2 separate regions of the Homo sapiens genome follow, and region 2 is linked to region 1. The links come from fine-mapping of genetic effects on gene expression. A gene starts in region 1. The other region holds a variant in brackets. All regions are shown on one strand. Distances are between the middles of the regions.

What was found. PIP is the estimated chance that this variant, and not a neighbour inherited with it, causes the effect. A credible set is the group of variants that fine-mapping cannot tell apart.
Region 2: its variant is the best candidate, but not a certain one, in a credible set for the expression of SPATA2L in amygdala (GTEx, PIP 0.50).

The regions. Positions count from the first base shown.
Region 1 is chr16:89,696,978-89,706,022 of GRCh38, reverse strand. It overlaps SPATA2L (spermatogenesis associated 2 like), which reads left to right and starts at 4,318. Exons shown (of 3, transcript NM_152339.4): 1 at 4,318-4,395; 2 at 4,790-5,093; 3 at 7,718-9,045. The coding sequence starts at 4,791. The coding sequence ends at 8,689. RefSeq lists silencers at 3,723-4,442, 4,613-4,712 and an enhancer at 5,715-6,580.
Region 2 is chr16:90,081,394-90,090,761 of GRCh38, reverse strand. No RefSeq gene overlaps it. Among named protein-coding and RNA genes, the nearest start is that of PRDM7, 8.7 kb to the right of the region's middle. RefSeq lists enhancers at 7,548-8,202, 8,275-8,404, 8,203-8,858. The variant C/T (reference allele first, on the strand shown) is at 4,646.

The DNA of each region.
Region 1 (9,045 bases):
AGCACTTTGGGAGGCCGAGGTGGGCGGATCACGAGGTCAGGAGATCAAGACCATCCTGGCTAACACGGTGAAACCCCGTCTCTACTAAAAATACAAAAAATCAGCCGGGCGTGGTGGCCCGCACCTGTAGTCCCAGCTACTCGGGAGGCTGAGGCGGGAGAATGGCGTGAACCTGAGAGGCAGAGGTTGCAGTGAGCTGAGATCGTGCCACTGCACTCCAGCCTGGACGACAGAGAGAAACTCCGTCTCAAAAAATAAAAATAAAATAAAAAGTAATGGCTGGGCGCAGTGGCTCATGCCTGTAACCCCAGCGGTTTGGGAAGCCGAGGCGGACGGCTCTTTTGAGGTCAGGAGTTCGAGACCAGCCCGGCCAACATGGCGAAACCCCGTCTCTACTAAAAATACATAAATTAGCTGAGCGTGGTGGCGGTAGTCCCAGTTACTCAGGAGGCTGAGGCCGGAGAATTGTTTGAACCTGAGAGGCAGAGGCTGCAGTGAGCCGAGATCACGCCATTGTACTCCAGCCTGAGCACAGAGCGAGACTCCATCTAAAAAAAAATAAAAATAAAACTATTCTGCATAAGCAGTGTCCAAATCATAACAAAAATCAAATGAAAAGTAAACAAGATGTAACCTTATATCCATTGGACCGGAGAAGATGAGGAAGCTGGACGATGCTGAGTACAGGAGGGGGAGGGAGCTCACGCACACTGTGGGGTGGACACGGCAGTGGCCCCAGGGGACCAGGTGCAGTCCTGGAGTCCAGGTAAGTGTGGACGGAACCTCCGACCTGGCAAGGCTGCTGCCGGTTTTAGAGGATGTATATGCAGTGGAGGCAATGGAGTGTCTGTCCCGGGAGGGCAGGGAAGGACGGAGAATCCACACGGCAGCTCATGGAGTGTCCATCCCCGGGCAGGAAGGGAGGGAGCCGTGAATGTGTACAGCCCACGTAGCCACCGCTGCCTAACAAACTACCCCAACTCAGGGGCTTAAATACTCAAGACGCCAGGCATGGTGGTTCACACCTGGAATCCCAGCACTTCGGAAGGCTGAGGCGGGGGGATCACTTGAGCCCAGGAGTTTGAGACCAGCCTGGGCAACATAGTAAGGCCCCCCTCTCTACTAAAAAGTTAAAAATTAGGCTGGGCACCGTGGCTCACGCCTGCAATCCCAGCACTGTGGGAGGCCGAGGTAGGTGGATCACCTGAGGTCAGGAGTTTGAGACCAGCCTGGCCAACATAGTGAAGCCCTGTCTCTGCTGAAAATACAAAAAGTACAAAAATCAGCCAGATGGCTCCTCAGCATCATGGGAGGCTGTTTCTAGGTGGTAACCCAATGACCAGGGGTTGGATTCATCCGAAGAGCTGTCTGCTGTCTATGGTTGGTGCCAGCTGTCGGCTGGGACCTCATTCAGGGCTGTCGGAACGACGACGTGAGGACTGGATGTGTTGCCAGGGGCTGCCAAAACGACCACAAAATGGGTGGCTTACAGCAACAGAAATGTTCTCTCTCACCATCTTGCAGGCCTGAAGTCAAAATCAAGCTGTCAGCAGGGCTGACTCCCTCTGGAGGCTTTAGGGTAGAATTCTGTTTGCCTCCAGTTTCTGGTGGCTCTAACACAGCTGTGTTACCTTCGCTCACGGCACCCTCGTTCCACTCTGCCTCCGTCTTTAAGCGGTCTTCTCTCCTGTGCGTTCATATCTAAGTTTCTCTCTCCTCATAAGGACAGCAGTCATACTGGATTGAGGGCCCATGCCAACCCAGAACAACCTCATCCTTTTTTTTTTTTTTTTTTTGAGATAGAGTCTTGCTCTGTGGCCCAGGCTGGAGTGCAGTGGCGCGATCCCGGCTCACTGCAAGCTCCGCCTCCTGGGTTGACGCCATTCTCCTGCCTCAGTCTCCCGAGTAGCTGGGACTACAGATGCCCGCCACCACGCCCAGCTAATTTTTTGTATTTTTTAGTAGAGATGGGGTTTCAGTGTGTTAGCCAGGATGGTCTCGATCTCCTGAGTTCGTGATCCACCTGCCTCGGTCTTCCAGAGTGCTGGGATTACAGGCGTGAGCCACTGCGCTCGGCCCAGAACAAACTCATCTTGATTTTTGTCTGGAAAAACTATTTCCAAAAAAGTCCCAAGAATAGGCTGCAGGTGAATGTGAGTCGCAGGTCGAAGTTGCAGGCCAAAAGCTCTGCACACGGCCGTGGCCTTCTCACTCTAGTGGCTGGGTTCTGAGGGTGTGTTAGTCCGTCCCCATGCTGCTGTAAATAGCTGCCTGAGGCTGGATAATTTATAAAGAAAAGACGTTTAATTGACTCACAGTTCCGCATGGCTGGGGAAGGCCTCAGCAAACTCACAATCATGGCAGAAGGCGTCTCCTCACAGGGCGACAGGAGCGAGAATGAGCACTGAACAAAGGGGAGAACCCCTTATAAAACCATCGGATCTCGTGGAATTCACTATCACGAGAACAGCATGGAGGAAGCTGCCCCCAAGATTTAATTATCTCCACCTGGTCCTGCTCCAGACCTGTGGGATTACAATTCAAGATGAGATTTTGGGTGTGGATACAGAACCAAACCATGTCAGAGGCCAAGGATCTCAAGACAAGGCCAGGGTATGGCATGTTTATGATTTAGCCTTGGAATTCATTCCACATCAGTTCTATTCCATGGGTTGAGGCAGGTGCAAAAACCCACCCAGGCCTATGGGAGGAGAGCTAGGCCCACTGCTGGATGGATGGACTGGTGTTGCCAAATTCAGTGAGGACAAAGGCAGAACAGTTACCTCCACCCTCCTCCGCATCAGAAGAAGAATAAAGATGAGACTTACGAAGTTAGCTGTCCTGAGGACTGGTGTGGACCCATGGTGGCACTGGGCACCAAGAGTGAGTTCAGTAAACAGTAAGTAAAAGAGCTCCCTGTCCAGAGGTGGCCACCTAGATAACTCAGGGAGATCCACCGACTGCATCACGATTTTTTTTTCCAGACATTCTCGCTCTGTCACCCAGGCTGGAGTGCAGTGGCACGATCTTAGCTCACTGCAACCGCAACCTCTGCCTCCCAGGTTCAAGTAATTCTCCTGCCTCAGCCTCCCAAGTAGCTGGGCTTACAGACATGTGCCACCACGCCCGGCTAACTTTCGTATTTTTAATAGAGACGGGGTTTCACCATGTTGGCCAGGCTGGTCTTGAACTCCTGACTTCAGGTGATCCGCCCGCCTCGGCCTCTCAAAGTGCTGGGATTACAGGCGTGAGCCACCGCACCCGGTCATGATCACTATTTCTAAGATGCCAGCAGGGAACTTCCAGGTAAAAAATCTAAGAAAAAGGGGGGACCTCGCCGCCCAGGCCCAGGGAAAGTTTCAACAAACTTGGGCCTTGGTTTTGGTGGCCTGGAGAGATGAGGGACACAGACGTGAAGTAGCAAAGCCTGCCCAAAGCGGGGGTGTGGGGTAGGGGTGGGTTTCGGCTGGGACCTCCAAGGGTCTCCCTCATCCTCCTCTACTTCTGGGCAATGCGAGAAAGTGGCTGTAGCACAGAACAGAGGAACCCGAGCGAAGAAAACGTCCCCGGGAAGTCGTGGCCCAGATTTAGCCTGGGTGGATCCGCAGCCCAGGTCAGCTTTTAGCCTAGAGAGGGGGGCGGCTTCGCCCTGCCTCAGAGACCCGCCCAGACGATGCTCTCAAGGGCTGCAGATGGCAAGTGCAGGAGGCCGGGAAGCGGAGCCAGCATAAACAGAATCTGAGGTCCCCGCATCCACCTGAGGCTGCTGTTTCAGACGAGGCTGAAAGGCTTGTCCTTCCGCCCACCTTCCGTGCCGCGGGCCCCTCCCTCAAGGGGATGGCCCCGCCCCACAGGGGAGGCCCGCCCCCGGATCCGGCCAATCCCCGCCAGGTAATGCAGGTGGCCCCGCCCCGCAGGAAAGGCTCTTCCCAGGATCCAGCCAATCCCCGCCAGGTAATGCCGGTGGCCCCACCCCCCAGGGGACGAGCCCGCGCACCTGCTTCCCCGCGGCCGGGTCGCCTGGGGCTGGGTCCCTGTCTCGTGGGGAGGAGCGGCCCAGGCACAACGTTCCCTGAGCGCCTGCCATGAGCCCGCAGCCCTCGGCCCAGCGGCGTCGTGAACGATACCGGTCCCGCGAGGAGACGGGCGACGCGGTGACAGGAGGCTCTCGGGGTGCCTCGCGCAGGGGCTCGGCCGGGCTGACACCTCCTCCTCCCCTTTCACCAGGCCCCGCCCCTCCTAAATTATTCGGAGGCGGGGCCTGCGCCAAGCCCCGCCCCGCCCCCAGCGTCACGGCCGCGGACCCCGGGCGGAGCCGACTCCCGGCGGAAGCGCGCGGCGCGCGGGGAGGCCCGAACTGATCCGCGGCGGCCGGAGACCGCTGGGGACAGACAGGTAGCGCCGTCACCCGCGGGATCCGCAGCTCCATCTGCCGGGCGAAGGGGCTCTGGTCGGGAGAGGGCTCAGCGGGCGGAAGCGCGTCTCTAGAGAAGGGTGCGGTCGATAACCGGGGGCGCCCCTGGAAGGCCGAGGTACCCAGGCTGGAGGGAGGGGCTGGAGGTGCGGGGGCGCTCAACTGGAGGGGCCTGGATCGCTGGGTGGGCGGGCAGCTGATGGGGCCGAGGTCTCCAGCGTAGGGGGTGCCGAAGATACCGGGGGCGCCCAGCCGCTGGGGGCGGGGTCTCCAGGCTCGAGGGGTCCTGGGGACGCTGGGTGAGGGTTCGGGGAGAGCGCGGCGGGCTGGGCGCGGCCTTAGGTCCCTGACCCCCCCGACCCCCGTCCGCCGCAGGATGGGCAGCAGCTCGCTGTCCGAGGACTACCGCCAGTGCCTGGAGCGCGAGCTGCGACGGGGCCGCGCGGGCGTGTGCGGGGACCCCTCGCTGCGCGCGGTGCTCTGGCAGATCCTGGTGGAGGACTTCGACCTGCACGGGGCGCTGCAGGACGACGCGCTGGCTCTGCTCACCGACGGGCTGTGGGGCCGCGCCGACCTGGCGCCCGCGCTACGCGGCCTGGCTCGCGCCTTCGAGCTTCTGGAGCTCGCCGCGGTGCACCTGTACCTGCTGCCCTGGAGGAAGGAGTTCACCACCATCAAGGTAGGCGCCAGGCCAGGAGGAGCGCGCCCCTCGTCCTGGCCTGCGGGTCGCGGGGCCGCCGACCATGGGGGACCACGCCTTTCGAGAGAGAGGGGCTTCAAGTGTCCTCAGTGCCTGGTGGGCTCCTCAAGGCTCCGAGCGCTGAGGGGTCGTGGGCGTGTGGGGGCACCCACTCCTAGGGCTGAGAACATGGGGTGGGCGAGGGCAGGCTTGGGTGCTGCCTACGGGGTCCTGCCCTGAGAGCTTGCGTCAGTGTCTTCCCTAAGAGGCCTCGCGGCCCCAGTTGCCATGGAAATCTTAGGACGGGGGCACAGAAGGGACTTGAGTTCCCATGGTCATCCTAATTCCTCCAGGTTATGGGCCAATCCCATTTGCAGAGGAGGCCGCCGAGGCTGGGAGGACTGCAGATGGGTGCATCCCTGTGAAGTCTCAGGGCTGGGCTCAGACCTAGTGAACTCCACGGCCTGGGGCGGGAGGCTGTGCCCAGGGCTGGCCTGGCCTCTCCAGGTGAGCTCCTGGCGGCAGGAGGGGGCAGGGCCGCCGGGAGCTCTGAGCTAATTCGGAAGAGTAGGAAGCCGATGACGTCACTGGGCACGTGGGCGAGCTACGCCTCCGCCGGTTGCCATGGCAGCGGCAGTCTCTCCGCGGCTCCCCGGGGACACCTGCTGGTCGGAGGCGCCAGGACTTTCATTCATGAGAGAGGACGGACAGGCCCGCCCTTGAGGCCTCCCAGGGGGCGGGGCGGGGGAATAACCGGCTTCAGTGCCGGACAGCCCTGGTTTGGACTTAGTTCTGCTGCTTCCTGGCCGCGAGGACTTGGCCAAATTAGCTAATCTCTGTCAGCCCCTTTCCTCCTGAGACAGCGACACGGGAACAGTCCAGTTCATGGGGCCAGAGGAATGAATCAAAGCCCCGAGCTCAGTGCTGCAGGCACTGGGCGCTCCACACGTGGGCCGTGTCCAGGCATTAGATGCTAGGAGTCCCGGAGTTAGGGAATTTGAGAGTCAGGAGACGCTCGCAGTGATTGTCCTGAGCTCCTTTAGTTCTTCACCTAAGTGTAGGCTAGAAAGCACTCAGCCAGGCCGGGCGCGGTGGCTCACGCCTGTAATCCCAGCTCTTTGGGAGGCCGAGGTGGGCAGATCACGAGGTCAGGAGATTGACACCAGCCTAACCAACATGGTGAAACCCCGTCTCTATTAAAAAATACAAAAATGAGCTGGGTGTGGTGGCACGCGCCTGTAATCCCAGCTACTCAGGAGGCTGAGGGAGGAGAATCACTTGAACCTGGGAGGTGGAGGTTGTAGTGAGCAGAGATCGAGCCACTGCACTCCATCCTGGTGACAGAGTGAGACTCCGTCTCAAAAAAAAAAAAAAAAGAGCACTCACCCTTCTACCGTCCCACGGCTGTCAGCCCAGTGCATGGACAGCCTCTGGAGAGCGCTGAAAACAGACGTGTCACCCCCATGGTGGAATACTACACAGCAGGGGGAATGAACGTTACAGCTTCTGTCCTTGTCTGCAAGACTGTAGTGGAAAAAAACAAAGTTCAGAACAACACGTTTAAGAGGCTACCTGTCTAGCTTTGGTTAGAGACCTTACAAAGAGGTGAAAAAAAAGGGGGGACTACCTCATACGAGGAGCAAACGAAATCTGTATTTGGGTTTGCAAAACAAACACCTGGGCAAGTACATTCAAAACTAATTAGATGAGGCCATCTCCAGGGGTGAAGGGAGCGGTGGGACAGAAGACAGTGGAATTTCTCAGTACAGGGGCTCTTCATTTTGTTCTGATTTGTGAGCTAGGTTAATGTATTCATTGTTTTTTCCATTAAATTTAAGAAATTCGGCCAGGTGCGGTGGCTCACACCTGTAATCCCAGCACTTCGGGAGGCCAAGGTGGGTGGATCATGAGGTCAAGGGATCAAGACCTTCCTGGTCAACATGGTGAAACCCCGTCTCTACTAAATATACAAAAATTAGTGGGGCGTGGTGGTGCGCACCTGTAATCCCAGCTACTCAGGAGGCTGAGGCAGGAAGATCGCTTGAACCCGGGAGGAGGAGGTTGTAGTGAGCCGAGATCGTGCCACTGTACTCCAGACAGAGCGAGACTCTGTCTCAAAAAAGAAAAAAAAAAAAAAATTCTAGGCCGGGCACAGTGGCTCACGCTTGTAATCCCAGCACTTTGGGAGCTCAAGGCAGGCGGATCACTTGAGGTCAGGAGTTTGAGACCAGCATGGCCAACATGGTGAAACCCTGTCTCTACTAAAAATATGAAAATTAGCCGGGTGTGGTGGTGGGCGCCTGTAGTCCCAGCTACCCGGGAGGCTGAGGCAGGGGAACTTGCTTGAACCTGGGACGCAGAGGCTGCAGTGAGCTGAGATGGAGCCACTGCACTCCAGCCTGGATGACAGAGCAAGACTCTGTCTCAAAAAAAAAAAAAAAAAAAAAAAAAAAAAGAAATCATCATGTTTGGGCCTGGCCCAAGCTGGCTAAGCCTAGTCTCTGGGGTTGGGTCTGAGCATCAGAAGCTGCCAAGGCCTGAGCCAACAGATCCCGGACCCACTGTACCCTAGGGTCTGGCCTATGGGAGGGTGGGCAGTCACTGACCTGGCCGCTCCCTTGCAGACCTTCTCTGGGGGCTACGTGCACGTGCTGAAGGGTGTGCTCTCAGACGACCTCCTCCTGAAGAGCTTCCAGAAGATGGGCTACGTACGCAGAGACAGCCATCGGCTCATGGTGACCGCCCTGCCCCCCGCCTGCCAGCTGGTGCAGGTGGCCCTGGGCTGCTTCGCCCTCCGGCTGGAGTGTGAGATCCTGGGTGAGGTGCTGGCCCAGCTGGGCACCAGTGTGCTGCCAGCTGAGGAGCTGCTGCAGGCACGGCGTGCCAGCGGGGACGTGGCCTCCTGTGTGGCCTGGCTGCAGCAGCGGCTGGCCCAGGATGAGGAGCCGCCACCCCTGCCCCCCCGAGGCTCCCCTGCTGCTTACAGGGCCCCACTGGACTTATACCGGGACTTGCAGGAAGACGAGGGGTCGGAGGACGCCAGCCTGTATGGGGAGCCGTCACCAGGCCCTGACTCGCCCCCGGCGGAGCTGGCCTACAGGCCACCACTCTGGGAGCAGAGTGCCAAACTGTGGGGCACTGGGGGCCGGGCCTGGGAGCCCCCAGCTGAGGAGCTGCCGCAGGCCAGCAGCCCACCATATGGGGCCTTGGAGGAGGGGCTGGAACCTGAACCTTCCGCCTTCTCCTTCCTCTCTCTGCGCCGTGAGCTGAGTAGGCCTGGGGACCTGGCCACCCCTGAAAGCTCTGCAGCGGCCAGCCCGAGGCGTATTCGGGCAGAGGGGGTACCAGCCTCAGCCTATAGGTCTGTCTCGGAGCCCCCAGGCTACCAGGCACACAGCTGCCTGTCCCCTGGCGCCCTGCCCACCCTCTGCTGCGACACCTGTCGCCAGCTGCATGCTGCCCACTGTGCAGCCCTGCCCGCCTGCCGTCCAGGCCACTCGCTGCGTGTGCTGCTTGGCGACGCCCAGCGGCGCTTGTGGCTACAGCGTGCACAGATGGACACTCTGCTCTACAACAGCCCCGGGGCCCGGCCCTAGGCCAGCTGGGCCCCAGGTCAAGGGCTCTTGGGAGACAGCTCCCGTGGTGCTTCTCTTTGCTGGGGAGGGGTCTGGGCCTCTGGTTGCCTTGTCCCTGGGGGAGTCCTGGGCACAGCAGGGGGTTGGAGAGTCCAGGCCAACCCTTGCTGGAGGTGGGACTCTCTGTATATGGAAGGCTCCAAGGGCAGCAGGCCTAAGCCGGCCAGCAGGAGCCTTTCCACATTTCCCCACCCTCGGAACCCAGACGCATGCCCACATGTGCTGGGTAGAGGGGTCCAGCCTGTTCCAGCCAGTGCCTGAACCTGTCCCTGAGAAGGACCCTGTGCCCCAAGGCCCGTGGCTCCTGGCCTGCTCCC
Region 2 (9,368 bases), 380 kb before region 1:
GGACATCCTCAGAAAATAAGAGCAGGAATGCATTGTCTTTTGTTAGTGTCTCTACTCTAACTATAAAGAGAAAGAGTTATAATTAAACTTGGAAGGTGCAGATGTACTCATTAAAGTCGGGTCTATTCGTTTTAACGATGACCATTAACCCGTTGACCTAAGCTAGCTCATTAATATTATCTTTAACAAAAAATGCTGCACTCCTAGGATATTTATACATTTTTCAGGCTTGGTGGAAGATGTCTTGTATGGCCATAAATATTCTGCAATTGTAATTTGTGGCCAGTAAAAAAATGTGGCTATTTTCAGACTATAGGTATTAACCTTCTAGATGCCTTGTGAGTACCTAGCTACTCATATTAAGATAGAGAATTCTAGTCATGTTTATTAAACTGGAAGCTTGATAACCATGAGTTCCTCTAACACAGCAAGTCTACTCCTCAAGGAGAAAATGTATTTCTCAGGAATTTTGTGCATTTTATTTGATGGCATTTGGTATGTTTACCAAAATGGCAGAAAAGAGTGAAATTAGTCCTCAGAGATTTCTCAAGATTGGATATAAAGTAAACAAAATGATTATAGTTAATATGCAAGCTGACACAGTTGATATGCAAAAGAAATTTTGTTTGAAACACAATGAGATTTTTATTTTTATTTATTATTATTATTTTGAGACAGAGTCTTGTTCTACTGCCCAGGCTGGAGTGCAGTGCACCATCTTGCCTTACTGAAACCTCCGCCTCCCAGGTTCAAGTGATTCTCCTGCCTCAGCCTCCCAAGTAGCTGGGATTACAGGCATGAATCACCACACCCAGCTAATTTTTGTATCTTTAGTAGAAATGGGGTTTCACTCTGTTGGCCAGGCTGGTCTCAAACCCCTGACAACAAGTGATCTGCCCACCTTGGCCTCCCAAATTGCTGGGATTACAGGCATGAGCTACTGCTCCCAGCCACAATGAGGCTTTTAAATAATTCTGATTTCCTGCTGTTGAGCAGGGAGCTGAGCAAATTCAACAGATCATGAGCCTAAAGTAGAAGACTGAGGACAAACTCTAGAACACATGTGATTAAATTAATTACAATGGAAACCAAATCAAATTTAATAAGGCCATACCTCTTAGTTTCAAGATGTTTCCCCTCATTTTGAAATGTGGTGTTATTCAGTGGAAAAGAAAAATAGTGTTTATCTCCAGAGTAAAGAACAGGGTTCCCTGCAGGGACTGACTGACTGAGAGCTATGGCTCAGGATTAAAAATTCTCTTTTTTCCACTTACAAACTAAAAATTAATTTCTAAGCCCCTATTGACTAAATGGACCCCTCTTCTTGGATAAAAACGTTCCAAAGTTACCCTGAAAAGCTAGTTCAAGCCATGGGTCACACCTGCCTCATTAGACTCTCCTCCCTTTGGTTTTAATTGTAATTTTTAATTTTTATGGGTACATAGTTGGTGTATATATTTATGGGGGTACATGACATACTTTGATACAGGCATGTAATGAGTAATACATAATAAAAAACAGGGTATCCGTCCTCTCAAGCATTTATAGCTTGTGTTATAAACAATCCAATTATACTATTTTAGTTTTTATAAAATGTATAATTAAAATTTTTTTTACCATAATCACCCTGTTGTGCTATCAAATACTGTCTTGTTCATTCTTTCTAACAATTTTTTGTACCCATTTCACATCCCCACTAACCCCCTGTTCCCCCACTGCCCTTCCCAGACTCTGGTAACCACCCTTATACTCTCTATGACATCAATTATTTCAAATTTTAGCACCCACAAATAAGTGAGGACATGTGACATTTTTCTTTCTGTGCCTGACTTACTTAACATAAAGACTTTCAGTTCCATTTCTGTTACTGCAAATGACAGACTCTCATTCTTTCTTATAGCTGAATAGTACTCCATTGTATATATGTACCACATTTTCTCTATCCAGTCATCTGCTGATGGACATTTAGGTTTCTTCCAAATCTTGGCTATTAGCAACATTTGTTTTTGACTGACTTCTGGATAAAAGCCACCTTAACTGAGGTGAAATGATATCTCATTTTGGGTTTGATTTGCATTTCTATAATGATCAGTAATGTGGAGCAGCTTTTCACTTCAATATATTGTAGTGTATTAGTCTGTTTCTGCACTGCTATAAAAAAACTGAGACTGGGTTATTTATCTATTTATGTATTCACATGAAGTCTTGCTCTGTCGCCCAGGCTGGAGTGCACTGGTATGATCTCGGTTCACTGCAACCTCCACCTCCTGGGTTCAAGCAATTCTCTGCCTCAGCCTCTTGAGTAGCCGGGATTACAGGCACCTAACACCATGCCCAGCTAAGTTTTGTATTTTTAGTAGAGATGGGGTTTCACCATCTTGGCCAGGCTGGTCTTGAACTCCTGACCTCGTGATCCACCCGCCGCAGCCTCCCAAAGTGCTGGGATTACAGGCATGCGCCACTGCGCCTGGCGAGACTGGGCAATTTATAAAGGAGATAGGTTTAACTGAGTCACAGTTCCACATGGCTGGGGAGGCCTCAGGAAACTTAAAATCATGGCAGACGGGAAGCAGGCACCTCTTCCATGATGGCAGGCGAGAGAGCATGTATGTGAAGCAAAGGTGGAAGAGCCCCTTATAAAACCATCGGATCTCATGAGAACTCACTCATTATCAGAAGAACAGCCTGGGGGAAACCAACCCCATGATCCAATCACCTTCTACCAGGTCTCTCCTTCAACACCTGGGGATTACAATTCAATATGAGATTTGGGTGGGGACACAAAGCCTAACCATATCATGTAGCTATTAATTGCTTTTCAGATGGGTAATTTACAAATATTTTCTTCCATTCTGTGGGTTTTCTCTTCACTTTGTTTATTGTTTCCTTCACTTTAAAAAAGCTTTCTGACTTGCTGTAATTCCATTTGTCCATGTTTGCTTTGGTTGTCTGTGCTTATGGGGCATTATTTAAGAAATTTTTGCCCAAACCAATGCCCTAAAGAGTTTCCCCAGTGTTTTCTTGTAAAATTTTGATAGTTTGAGGTGTTAGGTTTAAGTCCTTAATTCATTTTAATTTGATTTTTGTATTTTGCAAGAAATAGGGTTCTAGTTTCATTCTTCTGCCTATGGCTTGCCAGTTTTCCCAGCCCTATTTATTACAGAAACTGTCTTGTTTTTTGTTGTATGTTATTGACAATTTTGTTGAAAATTAGTTTAGCTGTATGAGTTTGTTTCTAAGTTCTCTGTTTCATTCCATTTGTCTTTATGTCTTTTTATTCTAGTGTCATGCTGTTTTAATTACTATAGCTTGATAGTACAATTTAAAACCATGTAATGGGATTCCTCCAGTTTTAGTTTATATACTCAGAATAGCTTTGACTATTATGGTGTTTTGTGGTTCCATATATATTTCAGATTTTTTTTCTATTTCTGTGAGGAATGTCATTGTTATTTTGATAGAGATGGCATGAAATGTATAGATTGCTTTGGATCGTATGGACATTTTTTAAAATACTGATTCTTCCAATCTGTGAACATAGAAATAACTTTCCATTTTTTTGTCTTCTCTTTCATTTCTTTTATCAGTGTTTTACATTTTTAATTGTTGAGAACTTTTATTTCTTTGGTAAATTCCCACACATTTTGTTTTATTTGTGGCTATTGCAAATAGGATTACTTTTTTGAATTCTTTTTCAGTTTGTTGACTGTTGGCATATAGAAATCTTACTGATTTGTATATGTTAATTTTGTATTCTGCAAATTTACTCAAGTTATTACTTCTAACAGTTTTTTGACGGAAATATTACGCCATTCTCACATTGCTGTAAAAACAGTCGGTGACTGGTTAATTTATAAAGGAAATAGGTTTAATTGGCTCATGGTTCTACAGGCTGTACAGAAAGCATAGCACTGGCTTCTGCTTCTGGTGAAGCCTCTGACAACTGACAATCAAGGTGAAAAATAAATCCGGTGCTTGCACATCACATGGTAAGTGTGAGGGTGGGGGGAAGTGCTACACACTTGTAGATAACCAGCTCTCATGAAAACTTACTATTGTGAGAATGGCACCAAAGAAAATGATGCCAAACTGTTCATGGAAATCCTGCCCTCATGATTCAATCACCTCCCCACTAGGCCCACTTCCAACATTGAGGATTACATTTTAATATAAGAATTTGGTGCGAACACACACCTAAACTATATCATTTTGCCCCTGGCCATTCCAAATCTCATATCCTTCTCATATTTCAAAATATAATCATGACATCCCAATAATCCCCAAAGTCTTCACTCATTTCAGCCTTAACTCAAAAGTCAAAAGTCTCATCTAAGACAAAGCTAGTTTATTCTTCCTATAAGCCTGTAAAATAAAAAACAAATTAAGTGCTTCCAAGATACAAATGGGGCATAGGCATTGGGTAAATACTCCTATTCTAAAAGGAAGAAATCAGCTAAAAAAAAAAGAGGCCACAGGACCCATACAAGTCTGAAGCCCAGAAGGGGAGTTATTGAATTTTAAGGCTCCAAAATAATTATTTTTGACTCTATGTCCCATTTCCAGGGCACACTAATGCCTTGGGACGTTTAGACCTTGTGGCTTTGCATGGTTCAGCCCCCACAGCTGCTCTCATGGGCTGGTATTG[C/T]GTGCCTCTGGCTGGTTTTGTCTGCTTCTGGCTTTTCCATGTGCAAAGTGCAAGCTGTAGCTAGATCTACCATTCTGGGATCTGGAGGACAGTGATCCTCTCCTCACAGATCTACTAGGCCATGCCCCAGTGGGGAACCCACATGGGGATTGTAACCCTACATTTCTTTGCTGCATTGTTTTAGTAGAGGTTCTCCATGAGGGCTCCACCCTTGCAGCATGCTTCTGCCTGCACACCCTAGCTTTTTTATACATTATTTGAAGTAAAGGTGGAGGCTCCCAAGTCTCAGCTCTTGCATTTTGTACACTCACAGGCCTAACACCATATGAAAGCTACCAAGGCTTAAGGCTTGCACCCTCTGAAGCAGTGACTGGAGTTTTAACTGGGCCAATTTGTGCTACATCTGGAGCTGGAGCAGTGGCCAGGATGCAGGGAGCCATGTTCTAAGGCTACCCAAGGCAGCAGTTCCTGGGCCTGATCCCAGAAACTATTCTCTTCTTTTAGGCCTCAGGGTCTGTGATGGGGGGCTGCCTTTTAGATTTCTAAAATGCCTTCAATTCCTCTTCCCCATTGTCTTGGCTATCAACACTTGCTTTTTTTTTTTTTTAAGTTATACAAATATCTCTAACAAGTGATTGCTCCACAGCCTGCTCGAGTTCCTCTCTTGTAAAAGCTTTTTATTTTTCTGCCACATGAGTAGGCTGCAAAGTTTTTAAGCTTTTACGCTATACTTCCCTTGCAAGTAAAAATAAATTACAACTTACTTTTTTTTGCTCCAACATGTGAGCATAGGTTGTTAGAAGCAGCCAGGCCACATCTTCAATGCTTTAGTGCTTAGACATTTTTTCAACAGAAACCCTAAATCATCACTTTCAAATTCAAACTTTTATATATCCCTAGGGCATGACAGAAATTCAGCCAACCACTTTGCTAAGACAACATGAATGACCTTTGCTTCGATCCTAATAAGTTTCTAATTTTCATCTGAGACCTCCTCAGCTCAGCCTTCACCGTCCAAATCACTATCAGCATTTTCGTCAAAGCCATTCAAAGTTAAGAAAATCTCAACTTTCCCTCATTTTTCTGTCTTCTTCTGAATCCTACAAACTCTTCCAACCTCTGCCTGTTTACCCAATTACAAAGCTGATTCCACATTTTCAGGTATTCTTATAACAATTTTCCACTCCTTTGTGCCAATTTTCTGTATTAAGCTTTTTTCCCATCACTATAAATACCTGAGACTGGGTACCCAGGAGTTTCAGGCCAGTCTGGGCAACACAGGGAAACCCTCTCTCTACAAATAACTTAAAAATTAGCTAGGTGTGGTGGTGCATGTCTGTAGTCCTAGTTACTCAGGAGACGGAGGAGGGAGGATTGCTTGAGCCCAGGTGGTTGAGGCTGCAATAAGCTGCGTTCGCACCATTGCACTCCAATCTGGGAAACAGAGCAAAACCATGCCCAGAGAAAAAAAGAAAGGAAAAAGAAATTCCATTTTTAAAAATCAGCAGGCTGGACATGGTAGCTAACACCTGTAATCCCAGTGCTTTGGGAGACAAAGAGAGGAGTATCACTTGAGGCTAGGAGTTTGAGGCCAGCCTGGGCAGGAGAGAAAGACCCTACCTGAAAAAAAAAAAAAAAAATTAGCCAGCTGTGGTAGTGCACACCTCTAGTCCCAGCTACTTGGGAGGTTTGAGGTGGGAGGATCACTTGAGCCCACGAAATAGAGGTTGTAGTGAGTCATGATTGTGCCACTGCACTCCAGCCTGGGAGACAGAGTGAGGCCCTGCCTCAAAAAATAAAACAATTGCTCATAGGAGTATGGGTTTATTTCTGGACTCAGAATTCAGTTCCATTGATCTATTCCATTGATGATGCCAAAATCATGTTGTTTTTATTAATGTTGCTTTGTAGTAAGATTTGAAATTTGGAAATGTGAGCCTCTGAGTTGGTTTCTTTGACACTATGTTGGTTATTCTGCATCCCTTGAAATTTCATATAAATGATAGGATCAGCTTGTGAATTTCCGCCAAAAGTTTTCTTGAATTTATTTCAGCAATGTTTTGGAATTTTCCATGTATGAGTTTTTTTTTTCCCCCAAAACAGAGTCTCGCTCTGTCACCCAGAGTGCAGTGCAGTGGTGCAACCTCGGCTCACTGCAACCTCCGCCTCCCGGCCTGTAGTCCCAGCACTTTGGGAGGCCGAGGCGGGCAGATCATGAGGTCAGGAGATCAAGACCATCCCGGCTCACACAGTGAAACCCCGTCTCTACTAAAAATGCCAAAAAATTAGCCGGGCATGGTGGCTGAGACTACAGTCTCAGCTACTCAGGAGGCTGAGGCAGGAGAATGGCATGAACCCGGGAGGTGGAGCTTGCAGTGAGCAGAGATCACACCACTCCACCACACCACTGCACTCCAGCCTGGGCGACACAGCGAGACTCCGTCTCAAAACAAACAAACAAACAAACAAACAAACAAACAAAGCACTATGTCTAGGTATGACTGTTTTCAGAAGAGGTGTCATACTGGTATAACATATCATGGCATATCGTAATACTGATATGACACCCACAACACTGCTGTGACGTTCACAATGGAGATGATACCGGCAAGACTGCTATGGCACCCTTAAAACTGATGTGAAGCCCGCAAGATTCATGACACTCCTAAGACTCATATGACACCCTTAATAATGATATGACACCCATAAGGCTGATATGATGCCCATAAGACTGATGGGACACCTGCAACAGTGATATGACGCCCACGATACAGACAAGACACCCGCAATATTGATGACACTCACAGTACTACTATGACACCCCTAAGACTCATATGACACCTGTAATACTGATATGACAGCCGCAATACTGACATGACAGCAGGGCGCTTGGTACACAGCTTCCACTGACCTGGATTTGGATTGGTTTGGCCTCTATAATGAAGTTTGATGTCTCTGCTTTACTGACAAGGTATTAATGTGGTTGTTTATAATTTACAATAATTTCCTTCTTCTAGGATTATTGCAATAGCAAAGTTTAACTTATCCCTTCTCTTAGATTCCCCAGCAGTTACAGCAACTTCACACAAAATACTCCTATGTATTTTATCAAAGCAAAGACAGCCTAAAATTTTTTTTAATTTAGAAAAAAAAAGCAGCAGGGCATGGTGGCTCAGGCCTGCCTGCAATCCCAGCACTTTGGGAAGCCAAGGCAGGTGGATCACTTGAGGTCAGGAGTTTGACACCAGCCTGGCCAACATAGTGAAACCCCATCTCTACTAAAAATACAAAAACTTAGCTGGGCGTGGTGGCGGGTCCCTGTAATTCCAGCTATTCGGAAGGCTGAGGCAGTAGACTCGCTTGAACCTGGGAGGCGGAGGTTGCAGTGAGCCGAGATGGCGCCACTGCACTCCAGCCTGGGCAACAAGAGCGAAACTCGGTCTCAAAACACACACACACACGCACGCGCACGCGCACACGCACACACACACACACACACACCAAACCAAAAAAAACGAGCACTGATCCGGGGGCGCCTGTTTTCTCGGCCTCAGGCTGTGGCGCCTTCCCGTCCCCAGCCTCCTGACCGCGTCTCCTCTCCCGGTACCAGGGTCTCTCCCCAGAAACAAACTCACATCCATAACCTGCATCTTGGCCTGCGCTGGGGGTGACCAGCCCAAGCCCTCATGAGGGGACGCTTTTATTAATATAAAGTGAGGTCCTGCTACAAACGGCGGACAGGGAAACACGGCCGCGCTCCCGCCGCTACACTCAACGGCAACAGGAAGCTTTTTCCTCATCTTCGCCTGGGCGGCCCCAGGTGTCCCGAAGCTGCAGCAGCGTCTCCCTGTCTCACTGTGGACGCGGCCCCAAGTGTCCCCATGTCTCCCGAGGCCGCAGCCTCTCCCAGCCGCGTCCTGAGGGAGGAAGCTCTGTCCTCACGGTAAACGCCCCGCAACGCCGCCTTGCGGATCAGATACGGCTCAAGCGCGCAGCGCTCGGGTTTAGCAGGGGCTGGGCGCCCCCTCGCGGCAGCCCTCGGGAATCTCTGAAATTCAGCCTCCAGATTACTCCGGGCCATGATTTTGGAAATTTCAACTGAAATCGAGCCCACCATCACATGCCTTGATCAGAACGCATGGAGATTTTTAACAAGTAAAATAGATGGCCAGTAGACAAAGGTCAATGGATTTTCTTTTTCTTTTTCTCTTTCTTATTTTAGAGACGGAGGCTTGCTCTGTAGCCCAGGCTGGAGAGGCAGTGGCATGACCTTGGCTCACTGCAGCCTCCGCCTCCAAGGATCAAGCAATCCTCCCGCCTCAGCCACCCAAGCGCTGGGATTACAGGCGAGAACCTCCGCGCCCAGCCCTAGCTGATTTTTTTATATCACCAATAATGTATAGGAATAATTTGAATTTAATGAATTAAATTTTGGGTGTGCTATTGTAAATGATATTCTTTAAAATTTCAATTCATTGAGTATAAATCTAACAAAAGACAAACAAATATGCATTCAGGAAACTGAATCATGGTTGAGAGGAATAAAAAATATATAAATAAATGCAGATAGTCCTCGTTTAGAAACAATAACTTACTATTGTTATCTTTACCACAAAGCTAAAGTAATGAAGAGTGATATTGGTGACGGAATAAGCAAAAAGATAAATGGAACACAATAGAGAACCCAAAAGACCCGAATAAATACAGTTAACTGATTTTGTCA